Linked DNA regions of Homo sapiens. The protein of the gene in region 2 purifies or fractionates together with the protein of the main gene of each other region. This does not show direct contact. Each region holds a gene or a part of one and is shown on either strand. Other genes may lie near its edges.

Region 1 (3,500 bases), on a different chromosome or scaffold from region 2:
ACATTAACTATATAAATATTAGCATAATACATATATAAGATTTTAATATATATGTTTAACATATATAGGTATATATGTGTTTAATGCATATATACATATATGTATGTGTGTATATATTTGTTATATAGTGAAATATATATTTGTTATATATTGAAATATATATATTTGTTATATACATACATACATACATGTTATATACACACATACATACACACACACACACAATAGGAAACTCCTAATCTGGTACAGAGATAAATATATTCTGCCAAAAAGAATGCTATGACAAACTGGCATTTATTAAAATGGGCTCTTTACCAGTAATTATTCTTGAATCAAAGAATGACACTTTGTTATCTGCTCTACCAAATAATGTCCACCTGAGAGCCAACTTTAAGCTTGGCCTGGTGTCCTACGTGTCTGCAAAAAACCCTCACATTTTCTAATTACTTCACAGCTTATAAATGAAACAGACTCTTCAGAAACCTATGCAGCTATATGTGCACCAGAACTTCATCACCCTGGGGGAGGAACCGCAAAAACTCAGCCCTATAATAGAAGGCACTGTCCTATGAATAAGCTAAAAATTAATTCTGTATCTGCATTTTAAAAAGGACACACTACCTCAAGTAAGATTTGTTATTTTCTCATTTTACAGCAAGAAGTTTTTTTTTTTTCTTTATGATAGTCCATCAAAAATGAATAGAGATCAAGTGGTCATTCTAACATTTGGACCAAAGCCAGGTCAGATCTGAAGGCAATGCAGAAAGGAGGCAGGAATGTGGGCCACACACCTGAAACACTAGGTCATTATCCTCCTTATAACATACCAGAAGGTAGTTCCCTGCCCAAAAGATAAACTCCAGACTCAGCTTAAGAAGCACAGCCCTTAAAATTTTAACCTCAGCCAACCTTTCCTCCTTTATTTAGTAAGAAAAATTATAGCTATTAACCTATTCTTATTGTTCCATAATATCAGTCTCTTATTGTATAAGCTACAATCAGTTCGGAATTGCTGCTGAGTTCCAAAGAGCCTGTAAGTGTCCAAGGCACTCCACAAACCAAGCAGTTGTCAAAAGGGATTTCAGTAAACACTACTCTCTAGATACCTTTCCAAAGGATTAACACTATGAGTCAGAAAATAGTTACCATTAACTACAGTGGTGGGATCGAATTTAACAACGTAATAATCCCTAAAGGAAAACACACTGCCTCCTTCTCATCTGTCGCTAGTCCATATGAAAAGTAGCAACGTCTGGTGGACAAGGGCAGCCTCAGAATGGGCTCTGGGGGACGGCACAGATTCCCACACACTGGACTTCCTCTGACTGGCTGATGGCAGGGATCCTGGCTTTAGGCGTGAGTATCTTTCTTTCTTTGCATCTTCCTACAATTTACAGTTTTTGTATAAATACAATGACTTATTTATTTATTTATTTTTTTTTTTTTTGAGATGGAGTCTCTTGCTTTGTTGCCCAGGCTGCAGTGCAGTGGCACGGTCTCGGCTCACTGCAACCTCTGCCTCCCAGGTTCAAGTGCTTCTCCTGTCTCAGCCTCCTGAGTAGCTGTGATTACAGGCAGCCGCCATCATGCCTGGCTAATTTTTTGTATTTTTAGTAAAGATGGGGTTTCACTGTGTTGGCCAGGCTGGTCTCGAACTCCTGACCTCAGGTGATCTGCCCACCTCGGCCTTCCAAAGTGCTGGGATTACAGGTGTGAGCCACCATGCCTGGCCTACAATGATGTTTTTCAAGTTTCTATTTTGCCATTTTAATATAGAACTTTTATAGAAAAAAAAATGTTTCTCTGAGAAGCAGTTTCTCAATTAACCTGGATAAACATATCTACTAAGACCATGAAGCCATAGACAGATAGCAATGTCCATCACAGGGGAAAACTGAACACAGTGGCGTGCTGTATAATGACATTTCCATTAACAACAGACAGCATCTACAACAGTGGTCCCATAAGGTTATAATGGAGTTGAACAATTCCTATCACCTAGTGACAATCTAACTGTTGGAACATTGTAGCAAAATGCATCACTCATGTGTGGTGTTGCTGGCGTACACTAACCTACTGCAGTGCCAGTCGTTGAAAAGTCTAGCACATTCAATTACATACAGTATGTAGTACTTGATATAATAATAAATGACTATGTTACTGGTTTATGTATTTACTCCACTACACTTTTTATCATTATTTTAGAGCGTACACCTACTTATGCAGGAAAAAATAAGTTAATTGTAAAACAGTCCTTCAGGAGGACTCCAGAAGAAGAAATTGTTATCACAGACAACAGCTCCACACATGTTACTGCCCCCGAAGACCTTCCAGTGGGACAAGATGTGGAGGTGGATGACAGGGATAAGGATGATCCTGACCCTGTGCAGGCCAAGGCTAATGTGTGTGTGTTTGTGTCTTCATTTTTAACCAAAAAGTTTAAAGAAAAAAAAAGAAAGAAAAAACTTATAGAATAAGCATATAAAGAAAATATTTTTGTACAGCTATACAACATGTTTTCAGCTACATGTTATTACAAAGAGTGAAAAACTTTTAAAGAAGTTTATAAAGTCAAAAAGTTACAGTAAGCTCATTTATTACTGAAGAGAAGTATTTTTAGAATAAATTTAGTGTAGCCTAAGTGTACAATATTTACAAAGTCTATGGTACTGTACAGTAATGTTTTAGGCCTTCACTTTCACTTGCCACTTACTCACTGACTCACCCAGAGAAACTTCCAGTCCTGCGAGCTCCATTCACAGTAAGTGCCCCATACAGGTGGACCCTTTTTTTAGTATTTTATACAGTATTTCTACTATCCCTTTTCTGTGTTTAGATGTGTTCAGATACACACATACTTTGGTGTTACAAGATTCTCTTGTGCTTAGAGATTCAGGACAGTAGCATGCTGTATAGGTTTGCACCCTAGGAACAATAGGCCATACCCATATAGCTTAGGGTATGAAGCTATACAGGTGTATAATACACTGTACCATCCAGGTTTGTGTAATTCACTCTATGATGTTCATATGATGACAAAATTGCCCCATGGGAGATTTCTCAGACCATAACCTAGTCATTAACTGATGCATGACTGTATATCATATATTAGCTCTAAAAACCAAACCTATAAGTGAACTGACAAAAGTTGCCATAGATCCTAACAGCCTTTGAGACGGATGGGGGGCAGACAGAGCTTGGCACACTTCAGCCGTTCACAGCTCCCAATCAACCAGTCAGGATGCTGGTGCCATATAATTAGGAGAGAAAGCTAAATCACCGAGGACTCAGCCAAAAGCAAACCATGGTGGTGAGGAGGAAGGTGAAGGAAAAGGGTGGTATGCAACACAGTGGGACACCTTGCCTTATTCCCCATGTTTTTTGAGGCTGGTCCTGAGAAGTTTAAGAGAGAAAGACTCAGAAGCATGCATTGGAGGCCAGTTTTCTTGTGGTCCCAGTGATGGTGGCTCTTGTGACGCCTGGATGAGGAGGGAGAGCCT
Region 2 (3,500 bases):
AAAACAAAGGAAATGTGAAAGCGTATGGACTTCAGTTACTTATAATGAATTAACATTGTTTATTAACTGCAACCAATGAATGACACTAATGTTAGGTGGTAATAAAGAACCAGAGTAGAACTAGGATAAGTTAAGAGTAGGGATTCAGGCTTGAAAATCTATTCCTAAGTGAACATAGGGAAATGAGAATCATATACATTATTGTTTAGTAAATACAGCTCTTCAAAATGACGCATACATATTTCTTAAAGCTCTAGCTAAAGACAAAGAAACTGAATATAAGAAAGATGATTTTTTACATGTTAAAAGACAATACATAATTTTATTTTACTAGGAGCAAAGACAATAAGGAGATTAAGAATAACTCCAAAACCAGATTCCTCCTTACCTCACATTCTGAGTAGGATTCCACCTTTCAGAAGGCAGTTCTCCACTCTGTGGGTCATCTACAGGCGGATGAAGAATCGAAATGCATACATCTCCATTCTACAAGACACAAACATTACATTCAGTAAATACTCAAAAAGTGATGTACAAAAAGGGACATCGGTTCTAAAGTTTCCTTTATTCCTAGAAACTGTTTCTTCATCAAAGGAGAAAACAATTCTGCTTTTTATGTTCAACATCAAAGATAAATAATAATTAAGCATTTTAAAAGTATTTATTTTGACCAATCTCCAAGGTATATTTTCTAGTGAGAAGACTTACTATTCCTATAGAACAATCCTGATGAAACAAACGATCCCTATGTTTACTTAGGAACATTAAAATATAATATTTATTTCGACCAATCTCCAAGGTATATTTTCTAGTGAGAAGACTTACTATTCCTATAGTACAATCCTGATAAAAAATTGACTGGGGCTGGGCGCGGTGTCTCACGCCTGTAATCCTAGCACTTGGGAGGCCAAGGCGGGTGGACCACCTGAGGTCAGGAGTTTGAGACCAGCATGGCGAAACCCCATCTCTACCAAAAATACAAAAATTGGCTGGGCGCGGTGGCTCACGCCTGTAATCCCAGCACTTTGGGAGACCAAGGTGGGCAGATCACAAGGTCAGGAGTTCGAGACCAGCCTGAACAACATGGTGAAACCCCGTCTCTACTAAAAATACAAAAATTAGCCGGGCGTGGTAGCACTCCCCTGTAATCCCAGCTACTCAGGAGGCTGGGGCAGGAGAATCGCTTGAACCTGGGAGGTGGGGGTTGCAGGGAGCCAAGATCGCGCCAATGCACTCCATCCTGGGCAACAGAGGGAGACTCCGTCTCAAAAAAACAAAAACAAAAGACAAAAATTAGCCGGGCGTGGTGGCACGCGCCTGTAATCCCAGCTACTCAGGAGGCTGAGGCAGGAGAATCGCTTGAACCCGGGAGGCGGAGGTTGCAGTGAGCCAAGATAGTGCTCCGGCCTGGGCAACACAATGAGACTCCATCTTAAAAAAAAAAAGACAAACATAATAAATCAAGACTCAATTGTCTTAGAAGCAGCCAAATATATATCCCTTTGTTTTCAGATATATCTGTGTACCTAGAGTACATAAAAAGGAAGAAAAAATATCTAACCTTGCTTAATATCTACTCAGATAGATGCTATGTCAATAACCATGACTTATATAAACCAAAAATATGCCTCGCAGCAAATGTTAACATCCTCAAGGTATGGTTAGAATGACTTCCCACTATGGCTATTATATTTTGCTTCATAAACTTAACACAACTTAATCCACAAGTACATTTAGGTTAATTCATACACATATGGATTGCCCACCATGTGCAATACAGAACACAATTCAATAGAAAAGATAAAGTTAGGTAAAATACAGTGACTTATCTCTTGGACTTAGCCTAACATGGAAGGTAAGATTTATTTATTTATTTAACTTCTTTCTGTCTTTAGAGATGGGAGTCTCACTATGTTACCTAGGCTGTAGTGCAGTGATTATGCATAAGACAACCATGGTGCACTGCAGCCACTAACTCCTGGCCTCAAGTGATCCTCACACCTCAGTAGTCCCATAGCTGGGACTCTAGGGTGTGCTACCACACACGACTTAAGATTTATATTTTTAAAAAACTGGAGGTATAACTATATAAAGTGCAAAAATCTTACATATACAACCCAAATTTAGACACATAGAAACTATATGAATATATATGTAACCATTATCAATATAAAATATTTTTAAAATAAAATTAATACAAAATATTATATTCTAACACACTGCCTTATGGTTAGATACCATAAGGCATGTAAAAAGTTACTACAGATAAAAGAAGAGAGAGGCCAGGCATGGTGGCTCACATCTGTAATCCCAGCACTTTGGGAGGCTGAGGCAGGCAGAGCACAAGGTCAAGAGTTTAAGACCAGCCTGGCCAGTATGATGAAACCCCATCTCTACTAAAAATACAAAAATTAACTGGGCGTGGTGGCACCTGTAATCGCAGCTACTCAGGAGGCTGAGGCAGGAGAATCCCTTGAACCCGGGAGGCAGAGGTTACAGTGAGCTGAGATCACGCCACTGCACTCCAGCCTGGGCGGCAGAGCGAGACTCCATCTCAAAACAAAAACAAAAAACAAAAAGAAGAGAGCCGGGCGTGGTGGCTCACGCCTGTAACCTCAGCACTTTGGGAAGCCAAGGCGGGCAGATCACCTGAGGTCAGGAGTTCGAGACCAGCCTGACTAACATGGAGAAAACCCATCTCTACTAAAAATACAAAATTAGCCAGGCGTGGTGGTGCATGCCTGTAATCCTAGCTACTCGAGAGGCTGAGGCAGGAGAATCACTTGAACCTGGGAGGTGGAGGTTGTGGTGAACCGAGATTGTGCCATTGCACTCCAGCTTGGGCAACAAGACCAAAACTCCATCTCAAAAAAAAAAAAAAAAAGAAAAAAGAAAAGAGAAACTTGGTATATTTGGGCAGTGAATGCGTGGGAGGTGGGGTGGAAGATAAAAGGCTTTGTTGTTGAGGAAGCTTTGAGATGAGCTTTCCTTTAATAATAACAATTTAAACAACCTATGGGAAATGTAGAAATGAGTTTTTCTGGCCAGGTGCAGTGGCTCACGCCTGTAATCCCAGCACTTTGGGAGGCCGAGGCAGGCAGATCACTTGAGGTCAGGAGTTCGAGACCAGCCTGACCAATATGATGAAACCCCATCTCTACTAAAAATACAAAAATTAGCCGGGCGTGGTGGCACGCACCTGTAATCCCAGCTACTCGGGAGGCTGAGACAGGAGAATCACTTGAACCCGGGAGGCGGAGGTTGCGGTGAGCCGAGATCACACCATTGTACTCCAGCCTGGGCAACAAAAGCGAAACTCTTGTCTCCAAAAAAAAAAAAGAGTTTTTCTGAATCCCAGCACTTTGGGAGGCCGAGGCCAGCGGATCACGAGGTCAGGAGATTGAGACCATCCTGGCTAACATGGTGAAACCCCGTCTCTACTAAAAATACAAAAAATTAGCCGGGCGTGGTGGCAGACGCCTGTAGTCCCAGCTACTCAG
Region 3 (3,500 bases), on a different chromosome or scaffold from region 2:
CAAAACCCAAACCAATCAAAACATGGACTGAGGATATGAAAGGACAATTCAGAGAGAAGGTTATTATGGATGTCCAATGAACTTATGAAAAGATGCATAACCTCACTTATCATCAGGGAAAGAAAAAAAAATTTAAGATACTATTCTTTGGCTGGGCGCGGTGGCTCACGCCTGTAATCCCAGCACTTTGGGAGCCCGAGGCAGGCGGATCATGAGGTCAGGAGATTGAGACCATCCTGGCTAACACGGTGAAACCCTGACTCTACTAAAATTACAAAAAATTAGCTGGGCGTGGTGGCGGGCACCTGTAGTCCCAGCTACTCAGGAGGCTGAGGCAGGAGAATGGCATGAACCCGGGAGGTGGAACTTGCAGTGAGCCGAGATCGCGCCACTGCATTCCAGCCTGGGTGACAGAGCGAGACTCCGTCTGAAAAAAAAAATGAAAAAAAAGATACTATTCTTCATTTATCAGAATGGCAAAATTTTCAAGAACTGGTAATATGCAAGGTTGACAAAAGTGTTGGGGAAAAAACACTATCATATACTGTTGCTGGTACAACTTTTTTGGCAGATATGATCACAATTTTATTTTATTATTTATTATGATTATTATTTTTTGAGACAGGGTCTCGCTCTGTCACCCAGGCTGGAGTGCAGTGCCGCAATCCCAGCTTACTGCAACCTCTGCCCCATGGGTTCAAGTGATTCTTGTGTCTCAGCCTCCCGCGTAGCCAGGACTACAGGCATAAGCCACAGTGCCCAGCCAATCACAATTTTAAATGCCACAAATACACTTTGATCCGTCAATTATACCGATCCATTCTACATAAATACTTGGAGTATACTCAGTTGTATTACTGTATGAGGATGTTCACTCTAGCTTTCTTTATAATATTGAAAAATTACACAATGCCATTCTGCTGTAGAAGAACAATCAGGTTGACTAACTTATGGCATATGAAATTATAGGATACTCTGCAGCAGTTAGAAGGGGGTAAGTGTGTTTTGTTGACATGAAAGAATGTCTATGATATACTGGTGAGAAAAGCCAGCTGCAGAAGTGAGTGTACAGAATTTTCACTTCTGTTAATAGAAAGGAAACTACACATTGAAACACACATTCACTCAAACACTTCTATGTGCACAGAAAAAGGACTAAAAATATACACACCAAAAGTGTTAACAGTGGTTATGCCTGGGAGGTAAGAGGTGCAGAAGTGAGGAAGAACTCGTTTTGAATTTTGCATATACTTCTCATTGACGTTTTTAAGAGGATGCTGTTTGTATACCCCATTTTTTTCCGTAAAGAGACAAAAGAAGTTGAAGGTCATTTCTTAGAAAGTGTTTGGGGACTGGGGGAGGCAGTCAGGGAAGGAGAGGAAGGGAAGAAGCTCTGGCTTTGGGAAAGTCCTCTCCAATATTTCATTCTTATGATGTAAAAATGAAAAGAATGGTTGAGATGTGTACCAATTATAGATCCAACCCAGATTCATAAGAAAAGATAAATCTAGAGCCCTTTCACCATCCCACACTGCCTCTTGAAGAGCCAGAGGCTCGGATATGACAAGCAGTTGAGGAATCAAGGCTAGAGGGGACACACCCCCAGGTTTAACTTCCAATTCTCTTACCTCGTCTTCAGGATCAGGATAAGGTCTCTTGCAAATGCAGTACAATCCAAAAAAGTTGTCATTGTACTTATTGCCAGAATTTACCTTTGCTTTGTCCTGAAATATAATATTGATTTCAATAATAATATGGTCTAATTTTAACTATAATTTCACACATTATAAAATTTATGCATTCAATACATTTCCACATTATTTCCCCCAAGAGGCTGATCTTTAATTTTCAAAGTAGGAAAAAAAAAACTCACTACCACTAAAGGGATACTTTTTTCAGGACACAGGGAAAAAATAATTTTTTTTTGTTTTTTTTTGTGGTAATTAGGAGAAATTAAATACACCTATTCAATAAAATGGAGATAAAAGTTAATCATAAATATTAATTATCAATCTATGTGAACTGATATTGGCCTGGAATTTCAAGGTACTTCTTTTTTCTTTTTGATAGAGATGGGGTCTCACTATGATGCCCAGGCTGGTCTGGGTTCAAGCCATTCTCCCACCTAGGCCTCCCAAAGTGTTGGGATTACAGGTATGAGCCACCACGCCCAGCCTTATTTATTGGTTTTTCTTTTTCTTTTTTTTTTGAGATGGAGTCTCGCTCTGTCGCCCAGGCTGGAGTGCGGTGGCACAATCTCGGGTAACTGCAACCTCCGCCTCCTGGGTTCAAGCGATTCTCCTGCCTCAGCCTCCCAAGTAGCTGGGATTACAGGCACGCACCACCATGCCCAGATAATTTTTTGTATTTTTAGTACGGGGGGGTTTCACCATGATGGCCAAGCTGGTTTTGAACTCCTGACCTCAAGTGATCCACCTGCCTCGGCCTCCCAAAGTGCTAGGATTACAGGTGTGAGCCACCGTGCCCGGCCTATTTATTGTTTTTGTTTGTTTGTTTTGAGATGGAGTCTTGCTCTGTTGCCAGCTGGAGTGCAGTGGCGCAATCTCGGCTCACTGCAACCTCCGCCTCCTGGGTTCAAGCAATTCTCCTGCCTCAGCCTCCCAAGTAGCTGACCGAGTAGATGACTGGGTGCCACCATGCCCAGCTAATTTTTGTATTTTTAGTAGAGACAGGGTTTCACCATGTTGGCCAGGATGGTCTCGATCTCTTGACCCTATTTATTGTTTTTAAGTCATATCCGCTGATTTAAAAGCCTCAGAGAATAAGTACAACCAATATAATTAAACCTGAATTACTTTCAAGTACATCTCTCCCCCAAACCTTTCATATTAATTACCATCTATCTTGTAGGCTCTCAACAGTTTATATAGTTTTTCTAACAAAGTAAAAAATGAAATGGCCATCTGCAAAGAATAAGCATAAGAACTTCTTTTTTTGGAAAATACAGGTATTTGTTTTTTTACCCACTCTGGCAAATATTAACCTCAGCTGCTCTAAATGCATTTATAGTTACAGTGCTTACTTACAGGAAGTAATTTGCATTCCAAATTTTTAAACTTGCTGTTTCCACAATCACAACGAAAATTTCTGAAAAAAGGAGGAAATAACAATTTTATTTTTCTTTTTACAAAATCCAATTTAAAATTTCTTCAAGCATTCAAGCACATAGTAAGACTTCACAATTCGGGAAATTAATATGTACAAAAGCAAATATTTATATCACATACAAACACACAAGTAAAATGATGGCAGGGAAAGATAAATGGTTTGAGTTTGTACCATATTATGTTTTTAAAGGCTCTAGAAACAACTCTCTCCAATTATATAAAATAATTACATTAAATTTCATTAGTGCTGGGCGAGGTGGCTCACGCCTGTAATCCCAGCACTTTGGGAGGCTGAGGCGGGCGGATCACGAGGTCAGGAGATCGAGACCATCCTGGCTAACTCGGTGAAACACCGTCTCTACTAAAAATACA

What was found. The genes of interacting proteins can lie anywhere in the genome.
Region 1: the proteins of UBE2R2 (region 2) and TGFBRAP1 purify together in Homo sapiens (co-immunoprecipitation; one large-scale study listed by IntAct). This does not show direct contact.
Region 3: the proteins of UBE2R2 (region 2) and UBR7 fractionate together in Homo sapiens (co-fractionation; one large-scale study listed by BioGRID). This does not show direct contact.

Annotation. Positions count from the first base shown.
Region 1 is NC_000002.12:105,319,736-105,323,235, forward strand, and holds part of TGFBRAP1 (transforming growth factor-beta receptor-associated protein 1), read right to left. Parts: intron 1-3,500. UniProt on the Homo sapiens protein: Plays a role in the TGF-beta/activin signaling pathway. It associates with inactive heteromeric TGF-beta and activin receptor complexes, mainly through the type II receptor, and is released upon activation of signaling.
Region 2 is NC_000009.12:33,897,160-33,900,659, reverse strand, and holds part of UBE2R2 (ubiquitin-conjugating enzyme E2 R2), read right to left. Parts: intron 487-3,500; coding exon 389-486; intron 1-388. UniProt on the Homo sapiens protein: E2 ubiquitin-conjugating enzyme that accepts ubiquitin from an E1 ubiquitin-activating protein, and catalyzes its covalent attachment to other proteins by an E3 ubiquitin-protein ligase complex.
Region 3 is NC_000014.9:93,210,256-93,213,755, reverse strand, and holds part of UBR7 (putative E3 ubiquitin-protein ligase UBR7), read right to left. Parts: intron 3,109-3,500; coding exon 3,048-3,108; intron 1,725-3,047; coding exon 1,629-1,724; intron 1-1,628. UniProt on the Homo sapiens protein: E3 ubiquitin-protein ligase which is a component of the N-end rule pathway. Recognizes and binds to proteins bearing specific N-terminal residues that are destabilizing according to the N-end rule, leading to their ubiquitination and subsequent degradation.